Linked DNA regions of Homo sapiens. The protein of the gene in region 1 purifies or fractionates together with the protein of each later gene. This does not show direct contact. Each region holds a gene or a part of one and is shown in the gene's direction. Other genes may lie near its edges.

Region 1 (6,466 bases):
AAAGTGAACCATGTGCAGTACACGTTACGTGTATATTCTAACAAACAGTTTCCTACGTTAGAACATCCTTCCAGTATATCCAGACTCTCAGAGCAAAGGATTCACGTGTCCTGGTGGGAAAGAGGGCAGGGAGGTCTATGGAGGGGCTTCTTGAGCTGAGGCTTTTTTTTTGAGACGGAGTTTCGTTCTTGTTGCCCAGGTTGGAGTGCAATGGCATGGTCTTGGCTCACTGCAACATCTGGCTCCTGGGTTCAAGCGATTCTCCTGCCTTAGCCTCCTGAGTAGCTGGGATTACAGGTGCGCACCACCACATCCGGCTAATATTTTCGTATTTTTAATAGAGACGGGGCTTCACCATGTTGGCCAGGCTGGTTGTGAACTCCTGACCTCTGGTGATCTGCCCTCCTCAGCCACCCAAAGTGCCTGGATTACAGGTATGAGCCACTGTACCCAGTTTGTTTTGTTTTGTTTCAAATAGAGATGAAGTCTCGCTGTGTTGACCAGGGAACTGGGCTCAAGCAATCCTCTCATCTCAGCTTCCCAAAGAGCTAGGATTACAGGCGTGAGCTCCCGTGCGCTGCCGAGGCTGGTTCTTAACTCGGTCTTTTCCACACTTGCTGTATTTGAACATAGGCTTCATCAAGCCTTCCTCTTAGGCATGATCTCAGTGTCCTATGACATTCTCTTCCCATGCCGGTTCCCAGACATGGATTGTTTTCATTGCTGTCTTCTCAGTTGGCCATGGGCCTCCTGAGCATGCATCTGTTGTGAGGTTGTGAACATGAATGAACCGGCAGGCAGCTGCGGCTCTTCATCTCTACCTACACACATCACATCCTGGGACTGAGTGTTCCAAGCCGCTTTGTCACTAGGCATTTTATTTTGTGTCTCTCACTATTGGCCTGGCTTTTGAGTTTTTGTTTTACTCTTCATTTTACAGATGAATAACCTAGATCAGTTTTTTTTCTCTCAATGCTCCCTCTGTCTGTCCAGCCTTCTGCTAAGAGTTCTTGTTTATATTTCCTGTTTCCTTTGTAGTCACCAAAGGCTTCGTGTACAGCTCTTTCCTAAAGCCCTACAATCCTCGCCGCAGCCACTCCGATGCCTCCGTGGGTAGCCACTCCTCCACAGAGTCTGAGCACGGCAGCTCCTCCCCCAGGTTCCCACGCCAGAACAGCGGCAGCACCCTGACCTTCAACCCCAGCAGCATGGCTGTATCCTTTACCTCGGGGTCTTGCCAGAAGCAGCCTCAAGATGCATCTCCTCCGCCAAAAGAATGTGACCAAGGAACTCTCAGTGCATCCCTAAATCCGAGTAATTCAGAGAGTAGTCCTTCCAGATGCCCTTCAGACCCAGACTCCACCTCCCAGCCAAGGTCAGGGGACTCTGCAGATGTAGCTAGAGATGTAAAGCAACCCACTGCCACGCCGAGGAGCTACCGGAACTTCAGGCATCCAGAAATAGTTGGCTACTCCGTACCAGGACGAAATGGGCAAAGTCAAGACCTCGTCAAAGGATGTGCAAGAACAGCCCAGGCTCCGGAAGACAGAAGTACAGAGCCAGATGGCAGTGAGGCAGAAGGCAACCAGGTGAGTGCGTAAGAGGCCTGCCACTGTGGCACAGGCGGCAGCAGATGTGTTGTGGGTACCAGCGGGGGTGAGGCAGAAGTGGCTTGCCTGAGGCCTAGGGGTGATCTGAGATGAGCTCACAGACACACCTTTCAAGCACACAAGGAATCTCTGCCATCAGAGCCTTCTGAGCACCTTCCCCTGCTGATACTTCACAGGCTATTCCTGGACCCCTCTGTGTCACTGGGTGTTTAAAAGGTGCTATAATGACAACTTCATTATTCTTCCAGTTCACTAATTCTTCAGTTGTATAACATCCATTTAATCCACTTGTTTGGTTTTTGATTCAAGTAACCATACTTTATTTTTTTTTTGAGGAGTTTGTCACCCAGGATGGGGAATGCATGATCTCAGCTCACTGCAACCTCCACCTCTCAAGTTCAAGCAATTCTCATTTCTCATGCCTCAGCTTCCTGAGTAGCTGGGATTACAGGTGTACACCAACACACCCAGCTAATTTTTGTATTTTCAGTAGAGACAGTCTTCACCATGTTGGCCAGGCTGGTCTGGAACTGCTGGCCTCAAGTGATCCGCCCACCTCGGCCTCCCAAAGTGCTGGGATTACAGGCGTGAGCCATTGTGCCCAGCCCCAGTTTTTCCTATTCTCTTTGTAATGGCCTGTTCCCGTTTATGAGTTTGATTGTAGGCTTTGTATCTCAAACGTTTTGGGTTTTTTTTTTTTTTTTTGAGACAGAGTCTTGCTCTGTCGCCCAGGCTGGAGTGCAGTGGCGCAATCTCAGCTCACTGCAACCTCCGCCTCCCAGGTTCAAGCGATTCTCCTGCCTCAGCTTCCTGAGTAGCTGGGACTACTTTATTAGAGACAGGGTTTCCCTATGTTGGCCAGGATGGTCTCGATCTCCTGACCTCGCTGCCTGCCTTGGCCTCCCAATTTGCTGGGATTACAGGCGTGAGCCACCCACAGCTGGCCATATCTTGAACTAACCTGTATGCTTTAAAGCCATTTTCAGATTCACAGCTGCAGAGTCTTTGCTGCACCGTTTGTTGCCTTTGCTCGCTCTTCAGTGGAGCATCTTCCTGTGTTGACTGTCAGGTTTGTCTGCGAGCTCATCTCCAGAAGGATTTGCCCTCATGGGAAGGCCCAGTCGTGTCCTGGGTTGTAGAGGTGCTGCCTCTGCCACTGTCTGGATTCTAAGAGTCCAGTTTTTACCCACTTTCTCAGTTCAGGCTTCCCATAGCACATTCCTCAGTGCCATAGCCGAGCTTTGTGCATGCTCGTTTTTCTGGTGATTTCTCTTACTACCTACTTCCCGGGTCAAACATCCCCATTCTGGGCCTACCAAGCAGACAGTTATTATAGACACATCAAAGGGAAAAGAAGGACCTTTCTTAGATTGAGTTCGAGCAGGGAATGTAGTTGTAGTCTCAGCTCCAGTCCCTGACCAGGTCCTAAAGCTCCAGCCCTTGGGGCACGTGTCCCTCCCTCTGGCCCCCATGGGCCTCATGGCTTCTCCTCCTCCCTGAGCTCCTCCCTTCCATGGGCATTAGATCATGAGATCTTTGTTTGTGGCATCTAAAGATCAACTTTTCTTTGAAGTTGGTTGTGGTTTTCTGGTTTTTCTTTTTCATAATTTGTGTTGGAGGTATGGAAGAGTATGCTCGTCTTCCACCCTTTAAAGCAATTCTAAAAGACTGAAAAGGTAGTTTTTTTAAAATGGAGTCTTGCTCTGTTGCCCAGGCTGGAGTGCAGTGGTGCAACCTCTGCCTGCTGGGTTCAGGCAATTCTCCTGCCACAACCTCTGGAGTAGCTGGGATCACAGGTGTTCACCATCATGCTTATTTTTCGTGTTTTTGGTAGAAATGGGGTTTCACACCATGTTGACCAGCTGGTCTGAAACTCCTGACCTCTAGTGATCTGCCCTCAGCCTCCCAAATTGGTGTTTGTTCCAAGACAGAGTCTCACTCTGTCGCCCAGGGTCTGGAGTCCAGTGGCGCGATCTTGGCTCACTGCAACCTCTGCATCCTGGGTTGGAGCAATTCTCCTGTCTCAGCCTCGTGAGTAGCTGGGATTAGAAGTGTGTGCCACCACGCCCGGCTAATTTTTGTATTTTTAGTAGAGGTGGGGTTTCACCATGTTGGCCAGGCTGGTCTTAAATTCCCAACTTCAGGTGATCCACCCATCTCAGCCTCCCAGAGTGCTGGGATTACAGGCATGAGCCACCGTGCCCGGCCAAATTGGTGTTTTCTTTTAATCATCCCTATTATGGTAGCCATCATCCGTATGTACCTATTTAAATTTATTTTAGTTAAAATTAAATAAGATTAAAAATTCAGTTCCTCTGTCTCACTGGCCATATTTCAGGGGCTCAGTAGCCACATGTGGGCATGTGGATGTGGAACCCTCCCCAACACCGCACGAAGCTGTTGGATGGCATTGCTCCCAGCAATTTCCCATTTTCTCTCTCTCCCTCACACAGGTCTATTTTGCTGTCTACACCTTCAAGGCACGAAACCCAAATGAGCTGAGCGTGTCAGCCAATCAGAAACTCAAGATCCTCGAGTTTAAAGATGTTACAGGAAATACAGAGTGGTGGTTAGCTGAGGTTAACGGGAAGAAGGGCTACGTTCCCTCCAATTATATCCGCAAAACCGAGTACACCTGAGCCCACGTTGCCTGCCACCCAGCCTTGCTGCCTTTGCTTTCAGTCCGCCGAGGGTTCTGGCGGCCCACCGAGAGGGCGCCTGCTCCTGAGACACAGGCCCTGTCTGCGTTGCTTAACCATGGCATGGTGGAGCACACCACAGATCTTGTTCTCCTCGATTGGGTTGTAAACCTTGATGCTCACTAGAATCTCTAGAATTTGAAATGGACCCTGGGGCTTTGCAAATGACTTAGTGACTATGAGAAGAGAGACAAGTCTTAGAGCTGGCTTTTGGAAAGGAGAAACTTGCAGTCAGAAGCCCAGTGTCCTATGTATGCAGGAAGCTGTGCTCTAGCAATAGACAGTGTTGGTAATGGTTGTGCTGTACGGCGTTTGGGGTGGCCCCATGTTCCATGCTCAGCTGACCGGATGCCAACTCAGATGAAAAGAATTCATGGCTCTGGGCACCCCGTGAGGCAGTGCTTGCACATGGCTGGGAGTTTGTCGGGATTGAACCAAACCTAGTGCTTCAAAGCTCCTGGGACACCTCCAGTGTCCAGCACACATTCTCATACATACTGCCCCTAATTTCTAAAGTCCCTAAAGCACTACATTCTGTAACCTTGTTTCTTTTACTCCATTCCCAGATTAGTTATGCAAAATTCAACTGCGTTCTACTTTTAGAAGTGTTTAGGGTCTTTATTTTCTGTTGACCCTTCATCTGAAAGATTCTCTTCCCTTGTTAGGTACAATCACTGCCCCCCCGCTTTTTTTTTTGAGATGGGGTCTTGCTATGTTGCCCAGGCTGGTCTTAAACGCCTGGGCTCAAGCAACCCTCCCGCCTCCCTGCTGAGATTACAGGTGTAAGCCACCATACCGCAACCTCAATGACACCTTTCTGATGGTCTTTACACAGTCTGTGATGTCTGGTGGCCCCCCTGCCCTGGACTCAATAATTGATAGATTTTCCTAGAGTAACAGTATGAGAGCTCCAGCCATTCCATTAAAAGTATTAGTTCTGCTTTGAGCTGAAACCAGTTGAGCCTAATGGAAGACTGGATGTCTTTCTTCTTCATCCAAGCACCCTAATGACTGTTTAGTTACATCCATAGATGCAGACAACATAACACCTGTGACTTACTTGAATTGGGATAAGCCATTCCAGAAGTAGCTTATCCTAGACTTGGAAATAAGATTTTTTTCACCACTAACTTCCATGCTTCAGAGATGACATTCAAAGCCAGATTCCCAAGTGCCTGATCATACCTCCCAGTCTCAGGAAGATATTTGCTTACCCCTTAGACCAAGAATCTTAAGATCTTCCCCAGCTATGAAGCCTATCTTGGAATGGGAAACCATGAAATTTGTCTTTTAAAAGAAAGGGAAGAAATAGCCTTACAGCCCCTGTTCCTCCAAGTGCACATTTAGCCTTAAAATCCTGGGAGTCGGGAGACACCGTGGAGTCCTAACATCCACAGTGTCTGCTGGTCGTGGTCAGAAGGCAGTAATGCAAGAGTCCTTTTGTGAAGAGTGTTTCTATGTAGAGATGTTTATATTTAAGTAGTTCTTTTATAAATAAAAGCATTTCTAATGGCCTTGGATGTTTTCTTGATTTCCATGTTTAAGCTGAACGGGTTTTTTTGTTTGTTTGTTTAAGCTGAACGTTTTTCCTGGGCTTCTGGGGAGGCCTTCTTGACAATGAGTGATGTCCAGATCTGGGAGAATGGGAGAGGCTAACTGAAGAAATGCAGGCCCAAAGTCATTCTGTCAAAGATTCCAACAATCTCTATATACTCAGGCCGAGTGTGGTGGCTCACACCTGTAATCCCACCAGCACTTTGGGAGGCCAAGGTGGGCGGATCACTTGAGGCCAAGAGTTTGAGACCAGCCTGGCCAACATGGTGAAACCCCATCCCTACTGAAAATACAAAAATTAGCCGGGCATGGTGCTGCATGCCAATAGTCCTGGCTAATCAAGTGGCTGAGAATTGCTTGAACCTGGGTGGCAGAGGTTGCAGTGAGCCAAGATCACACCACTGTACCCTAGCCCGGGCGATAGCAAGACCCTGTCTCAAAAAAAAAAAAAAAAAAAATCTCTGTATACTCAAAATATGTCCATGCTGCAGGTGACTGCCTCTATTTTCATCTTGTCCTGTGAAATTCTAACGAAACAGAAGAGCTGGGATCTCTAGGGGATAAGTATTTCCCTGATATTGCAGATGTGGACACTGATACACA
Region 2 (7,595 bases), on another chromosome or scaffold:
TTTTGTAACTGAATTTTGACATTGGTTTGGGGTGTCCTCACATATGAATTCTGGTTTTCTCTCCCTTTTTAAAAATCTGTACATCACCTCAGGCATGAGTTGTGAGTATTTTATATTTTATGTCAACCATAGTAGTCTATCGTATATTATGATGTACTTGGATTTGTTAGGAAAATCTCTGCAAAGGGCTGGTCTGTGATCTTAACAGTCCTGGCATGTGGCCATTTTAGCATTCTGCTTTATAACTTAAATATCATGAAGGGGTACCATAGGTAAATTAGGTTTGTACAACTTCAGATAACTTAATATAAAACTCAGAAAAATTAGCTTGCTGTCGAAATGTATGCCAGCAGCATCAGAGTTGTAGGCCTGGAGCCTAATTAATGCATGAGTATAGAGTTGTTCCTTCCAGACAGCGGTAAATAACGAGCAGCGTGATGACACTGGAGTGGGAAATGTTTGGCAGCTTTTCTAGCCGCTTCCATCTGAGTCTTTAAATGGATTCAGCGCCTCTTAAAAAATCAAAGGAAAGCCCAGGACTTAGAATCAGCACACTTAGGCACTAGCTTATAAAATATTCTGTTGTATAAAAAAAGAGAGAGAGTGCCTGTGTGCACATGCTGCCCTGTACCTAGCCACATGACTTCCAAAACCTGCTAATGCCTGATTTCCATTACGTGCTACTCCTCAAATGGCAGCGGCTTCTGAATATTACAGAGATGGTGTGCTGTTTGCTTTTCTCTTTTGTTGTAGCATAAAACTGTTCATTTTAGCTTAGTGACATTTGTCAAGAATAGCAACCTTTTTGCTTCCAAGGGACTTGAAGGAAGTTAAATTTAGATGCTTTCCTCTCTTCTTATTTTGTGGAGGTATTTCCTGTTCAGTAGCAAATCAGTTATAGAATATATTAGCATTGTTATATTTTAAACTAATGACTAATCATTTCAGCTTTATTCATACTGTTGCATTTTATATTTCACAGGGAGCAATAGAAAAAGTGAAAGAAAGTGACAAACTAGTTGCAACAAGTAAAATCACCCTACAAGACAAACAGAACATGGTGAAGAGAGTCAGCATCATGTCTTACGCGTTGCAAGGTAAGATGAAAGGGTCCTTATGAGGTGCTGGTGGAAGTTTTTTTTTCCCCAGCAAAGTTTCCCTTGATAGAGAGAAATCCAGATGTGAGCAGCAGTTAAGTAAGTGAGACCTTTTAAGCCCCTCGTTTGCAGGATCCCGGTGCTGATGAAAATCTGTAATATTTATTTAATTTTTCACCTGTCCACCTTATCTGGCTATAGATGACAGCTTGATTAAAACTGTACATTTTATTATTTCTGAGAGACATTTAAGATTCCTTTTGTAATCTGTGGTATCATAATGCTCTATTAAATGCCAGAGCCCAGCTTTTAGCAGTCTGTAACCTGCGTGCCTTGGGATCATGGAATGTGAAGGGGTTTGGGTGTGTCATTTTAGGCACAATTTTTTTGTGTCAAGAAAAAAAAAAGATGAATTTCTATAGGTTTGAGTGTTTTTGAGCAGATGAGGGCAGCAAGTGGATTTTTCCTGTTGGCGGATGGGTGGATGGCACTTGGATGGGCAGAGAATGGAGAGCGTGTTCTGTTAGGAACAAAAGCCACAAAATTGTGGTGCTAGATTGTGTCATGGGCATGAAAGAGTAAAACATACTTAGAGGTTATTGGGAAATAAATTTTGATTGTGAAGGAACTTGAAAGCTCTAGACTTGATGCAGGCATTAAGAAGCCATTAAAAGGGAGTAAAAAAAAATCAATCCTCAAGGGAGAAGGATTTGCTGGTTATGGAGGGGAGATTGGAAGATGCAGACACTGTCCAAGAGCCCAGCCAGAAGACCATCTCACTGTTGTAGTCTGAGCTTTGAGGGCCTAAAGATGTGGTACTGGGGAGAAGAGAATGAAGCACATTTGCAGGCTTTTCCAAGGAACAGCTTTCAAGACTGGGGCATTCATGGGAGAAAGAGAAGGATGAGGGAGGTGTCCAGAGCCAGGCCACTACGGCAAAAACGAGGAACCCTGATTGAAGTTTCGGGTTTTGAAGGGTTTGAAATGGGGAGTTTGGTTTTGAACTTGTGTTTGAGGTTATCCAAATTGAGAAATACAAAGCTTTGTATAACTTCAAGTAACTGAATGTAAAATGTAGAACAGTTTGCATGTCATGGGAATCTGTGCAGCCGCTGGCTTTCTCAGCCTGGAGGGTTTGGGAGAAGGCGGCATAGGAGGCATCCGAGGGAGGCAATGAGGTCCTCTGATGACGAAGACTCCTCTAGAGTTGGGGGCAGGGGCAGGGGGGACAGAGAAAGAAGGAATCCATGTATTCAGCAAACATGAAGAAAGTTGTCCCTCAGCATCCAGTCCTCCTGCCCTGTGAGAGGTTGAGTTCTGACAGCGTCGCTGGTGCTCAGGGGCAGCAAGGCTTCCCGTACTGAAGAAGGGTCTCCCGCTGTCCCACACGCTGCCCAGCCTTTCACCAGAAACCTGCTGAAGCAATTGCTGTGCAGGAGGGAGCGGGGCAGGGACCCCAGCTGCCTGCTAGGTCCAGTGCAGACACACCAGAGGCTTTGAACTGCAGTCATCTGTAACAAATATGACCAAGTATTTTCTATTTGATCGATTCTGTTAGAGTAATAGGCTGCATTTGGGTGATTTATCTGTATTGGATTTTATAGTTTTGAATATGCAAGACAGTGAAAGTCATTCATTTACTGGAAAGTAATGTTTGTCATTAGCTTGTTTTGTTTTGTTTGTTTTGTTTGAGACAGTCTCGCTCTGTCACCCAGGCTGGAGTACAGTGGTGCAATCCCGGCTCACTGCAACCTCCATCTCCTGAGTTCAAGCAATTCTCCTGCCTCGGCCTCCCAAGTAGCTGGGATTACAGGCACCTGTTGCCATGCCCGGCTAATTTTTGTATTCTTAGTAGAGATGGGGTTTTGCCATGCTGGCCAGGCTGGTCTTGAACTCCTGACCTCAGGTGATCCACCCACCTCACCTCCCAGAGTGCTGGGATTACAGGTGTGAGCCACTGCGCCCAGCTCAACTTGTTTTTCTAACCTCTTAGTAAAGTGATTTACCAAGAACTGACAACAGCAGCCAACCAGATTAGGTCAGGTTGATGATTAATTGTAACTGAGCAGAGAAACCAGGTGTTGTCATTTGAAAACTTGAGGGAAAACTGATTGATGTTCTGATTTGGGTTGTAGCTGAGATGAATCACTTTCACAGTAACCGGATCTATGATTACAACAGTGTCATCCGCCTGTACCTGGAGCAGCAAGTGCAATTTTACGAAACGGTGAGTGGGCGTCCACGTGCCTTTCGCATGTGCTTGAGGAGAGGGTTCCTGGTAAACCACTTTGACCATGTAAAGTTAATCTGTTTGTATTCTTTAATCCTAAGTAATAAACCAAAGGAGCCTAAATTTTGGACAGGATTTTTTTAATCTCCTAATTCCATCTGCCCTTTGCTTTTTGGATAACACTGGGTTAAAAAAGATTTTCTTCTGAAGCAGGGGTCTTGGATGCTAGTTGCAAGGCCCCAAGAAGTTCCTTATTGTGCAGCTCCTTCCCCCCGTCACAGCCTCTCTGTGCCTCTGTGCACCAGGAACGGTGCTGAATGAGATGAGGTCACCCAGCCGTCCCTGGGACTCCGTTGGCAGCTGGAACAGGAGCCTGGCACCACACAGGAAACCAAAGGCAGCCTTTGCTTTTTGTGAATGAGGTTTTCACAGTGCGCCATGGAAATCGCAGAGAGAAAACCAAAAAAGCGAGATGTGGGATGGTTTTATTCACAAAACAATAACGAAAACTTAAATTTTTCTTACCTCTGCTTAGTAATTTTGTTGTTTACCAGAGTCTATAGAAAACAAAAATCTAGTAGCATGTCTCCCTCAGACACCTGCAGGTAAGGTCTGTAATGTAGAATCCAGCCTCCGCTGGCGGCCTTGCTGCCTACCCAGCTCCCCTCTGGCCATGGGATCTAAGCCATGTTCATGGGGAGTGGTGAGCAAGCCCTCTGCTCAGCCATACTGGTGGCATCTGCGAGCTGGACACTGCTGAAAACGCCTGTCTCCAGCAGCCAGTTCTTAAAGGAGAACTGTGCTTGATGTACCTAATGCATATTTGTGAATTGTGTCTTGGACAGTTGGTTTGGGAGACTAACTTACGGGAGGAACTCACCTAAGCCCTGTCCTCCCTTACAGGACGTGGGCCCTATGCTCTTTAAATGCACACTTTTCCCGTCAGTTGGTGCCATTGTGGATTTGCCTTTCATTGTATATTAGAATATAACAGATTACATTTGTCTGTGTGAGAAAATAATGCAAGGGCAACTCTCAAAATTTTGATAGTGTTGATTTATTGATTTTCAAGTCCAGGTATGGTATAGTGACATTGTAATTCAGAATAGAAAACCATGTATTTCATCACTGTCTTTGCATAAACCTAAGTAGCTGATATAACATTGTTAGGTTTTAGATCTAAGTTTTATGGCAAAGTAACCCTTAAGTTACTAAAATTTGTGTATGTGTTCATGGAGCAGACATATATTGAGTGTTTCTTATATACCAAGCCCTCGTGCTGGATGTTTAGCATCCAGGGATGGATAAGACAGCTGTGCCTTCAAGGAGCAAGAGGCCCTGGCGCAGAGACCACTGCAGCGCCTCGTTAGCTTCACAGGCAGGCTCGTGCTGTCTGCACACTCAGCAGTGACAGCAGGGTGTGGCCAGGGCGACACAACCTTCAGGGGATTCTGGAAGCTCATACTCCTCCAGGAAAGAGGGGGCTCTAGGCAAACATGAAGGCCTGAGCCCCCAGCTCATCTGAGGAAAAGCAGGTGGTCTGGAAGCGCCGCTAGGGCAGAGGTGGGGAGCATGTGTAGACGCCTCCCGGCGGGAAGGGACCACCAGGGCCAGCTCGGGCCCCAGCGCTGCCGGTGTCATTCGGGGTTAAGGTCTGTCCAGCAGCAACGCGGGGCAGGGCTGGTGCCAAAAAGACCAGTTAAAGAATTGGAATTTGTGTCATGTTTAACTTGTTGGAGTTGTGAATAAAGAACACTGTGAGGTCGTAATGGGAGTGATATCTCAACGTTGTTTTGTTTTGCTTTCTTGTCAGATTGCAGAAAAGCTGAGGCAGGCCCTCAGCCGCTTTCCAGTGATGTAGGACAGAACGGGCCTTGAAGAGAATGCCGCGTGCTTTCTCCTGACTTGGGGCAATGCAATTCAAAACTTTTTTTCCCCTATTATTCAGAAAAAAAAGGAAACAAAACCAAAAAGAAAGAGTTGCAAAAAACTGCATTTATTTTATTAGCCACCCTAAATGCGTCAGTTATTTAGGGATGGTCTTTTGTTCATTTCCGCATCCATTATTTAAACCAGTGGAAATTGTCTCTATTTTTGGAAAGTACTTAAAAGTTACCAGAATTTTCAATGGAAAATGAGGGGTTTCTCCCCACTGATATTTTACATAGAGTCATAATTTATATGTCTTATAAATTATAAGTCTTATATAATTTATAAGTCTCCCACAATCTTCCAGTTCTTACCCAGTGTCAGATAATTAATTACTAATTACTTTCTTAAAAACATGAACTATGCCAGAATAAAAAATATCTATGTTTGTATATTTTTATAACTCCTTTCAGTCCTCTGGGGCTCCTGTCATTGAGGGAAGTCGTTACGCCTTTCACTGCCACAGTTACAGCTCAAGTGCTTACACTTCAAGAGGGAGGACGCTGGGGGCCCCTGGGGCTGCTAGTGCCATCGTGGTGTGTGGCAGGTGGGCCATCCCATGTCCCTCCAGGGGGACCCCACAGCCTGGCAGATGAGCAGATACCCCTGGCCACCCATGTCCTCAGCGACATTTCTGATGTGCTGCTCTTATGTGAGGACCAGTGCTTTCTCTCTTTGCACTTCCTTCCTAATCTTGGTTAAGGCATGTTTTATGCCATGAAGAATACATTAGAAGAATTGAGGGACTTTGTAGAGAATTTTGTGGCTTTGGTCCAACGGGTGAGTGGCTGTGCGGAGGCCTGTGTTCGGGAGGGCCTGGGAGAAGGAGGGCACCCAGCACCCCGGCGTCTCTGGCCCTTTCTTATTCTTTGGCTCCTCATCCACCGTGATGAGAAGCGCTGCTGTGGCCACGGCACACTGCTTGGCTTGGGTGGCGGGTTCATGGCCAGTTGGTGTCATCAGCAAAGAGAAAAAGCACAGGTTAGCTCCCCATTAGATGGAAAAGTGTAGGGACTGAGAAGGGCTGCAGCCTCAGCAGTGTACAGAGTCCCCGGCGCTCTGAGGTTGGAGAGAAAGAACAGACCAGCGCCCTTCCCGACTACATCCGAAACTTCACACAGGGTGTTTCTGAGCACCAGCACTTCCAGCGCTTCACTTAACGGCATAAAGCAAAACAGGACCTTGGCACACCGTCAGCTCGAACTCAACACTGGCAGCCACCGTCTCACCCCTGCGGAGGAGCGCTCCCGTCTCCCACAGGTGCCTTACCGCGTTCCCTCCCGCTGCTTTCATTTTTCTGACCTAATAATTACGGGAAATGGAAAGTCTGGGCCAGCATCAATAAAATGACACCAAAAATAAGTAGATGAAATCAAATGAATATGAGAACATCTTGTTCTTCAATATCACGGGTTTTTGTTAATGTTTCATAAGTAATTCTCCCCACTTGATTTTTCTTCTATAAAATCCCATAGAACAATGTTTATGCTATAGCCATTTAATATATGTACAAATTGTAAAGAATATGTATAAATGTTTTACACGAATGTAAGAGCATGTAGAAGCCAACATATAAATAAATTGTTTAAAAAAACTGTACAGTAAATTCTCAAAGCACTTTTTCAAAACACTTTTTGGACTTTGTGTGTGATTTTTGTTGTTGTTGTTAAGTACTTTTTATTCCAGCTGCTGAAAATGGTCCAGGTAATGAATTCTTCCCCAAATCCTATTTCTTCTGACATGAATTCATCATTTCAGTTCCGTAGGTCAGTGTTGCGGTCCGGGAAGCGTATCATAACCACCTGGGAGTTGCCAAGAAGCAGACAGTCTCCCAGTGTCTGACTCTCGGATATTTGGATTTGACTGGTGTGAGGCAAAGTGAAAAAGGGATGGGGGAAATGGAGATGGCACGGGCTCCTCAGAGCGTGGTAGCCGACTGTGAGGAAAAGCAGAGGGAATGTGAAAGAAAATAAGAGAATCCACGGGATTTGATGCCTGGAAGATTCTCCTTCAAGTGGCAACATGGCATATATATCCTTCTCCGGGGAGTCACATGCACCATTTGGTTCTTAGATACGTTGATGTTTTGATTTTTAATGATTTGTATCAACCTGTAGGTACCACAGAAGAGCTGTAGTCATACAATCACATAACTTTTACAAATATAGTGGAAAAAAAGTCAGTATTTGGAGAGGAGAGATGAAGGCGTGGTGGAAGAAAAGGTCAGTCTCGTTGTCAAGCAAGTGACGTCAGTTGCCTCCCACCAGGAGCAGCAGTCCCGGGATGTCAACCCACTGCATGGTTTGTAGGTGTTGGGGTCACCAAGAAAGATGACTCAC

What was found.
Region 2: the proteins of DNMBP (region 1) and SNX9 purify together in Homo sapiens (co-immunoprecipitation; 2 studies listed by BioGRID and IntAct, with this or other methods). This does not show direct contact.

The regions. Positions count from the first base shown.
Region 1 is NC_000010.11:99,874,934-99,881,399, reverse strand, and holds the end of DNMBP (dynamin-binding protein), read left to right. Parts: intron 1-199; exon of another isoform or gene 200-297; intron 298-1,038; coding exon 1,039-1,589; intron 1,590-4,063; coding exon 4,064-4,249; 3' UTR 4,250-5,823; downstream 5,824-6,466. UniProt on the Homo sapiens protein: Plays a critical role as a guanine nucleotide exchange factor (GEF) for CDC42 in several intracellular processes associated with the actin and microtubule cytoskeleton.
Region 2 is NC_000006.12:157,937,651-157,945,245, forward strand, and holds the end of SNX9 (sorting nexin-9), read left to right. Parts: intron 1-982; coding exon 983-1,097; intron 1,098-3,232; coding exon 3,233-3,324; intron 3,325-5,140; coding exon 5,141-5,188; 3' UTR 5,189-7,427; downstream 7,428-7,595. UniProt on the Homo sapiens protein: Involved in endocytosis and intracellular vesicle trafficking, both during interphase and at the end of mitosis. Required for efficient progress through mitosis and cytokinesis. Required for normal formation of the cleavage furrow at the end of mitosis.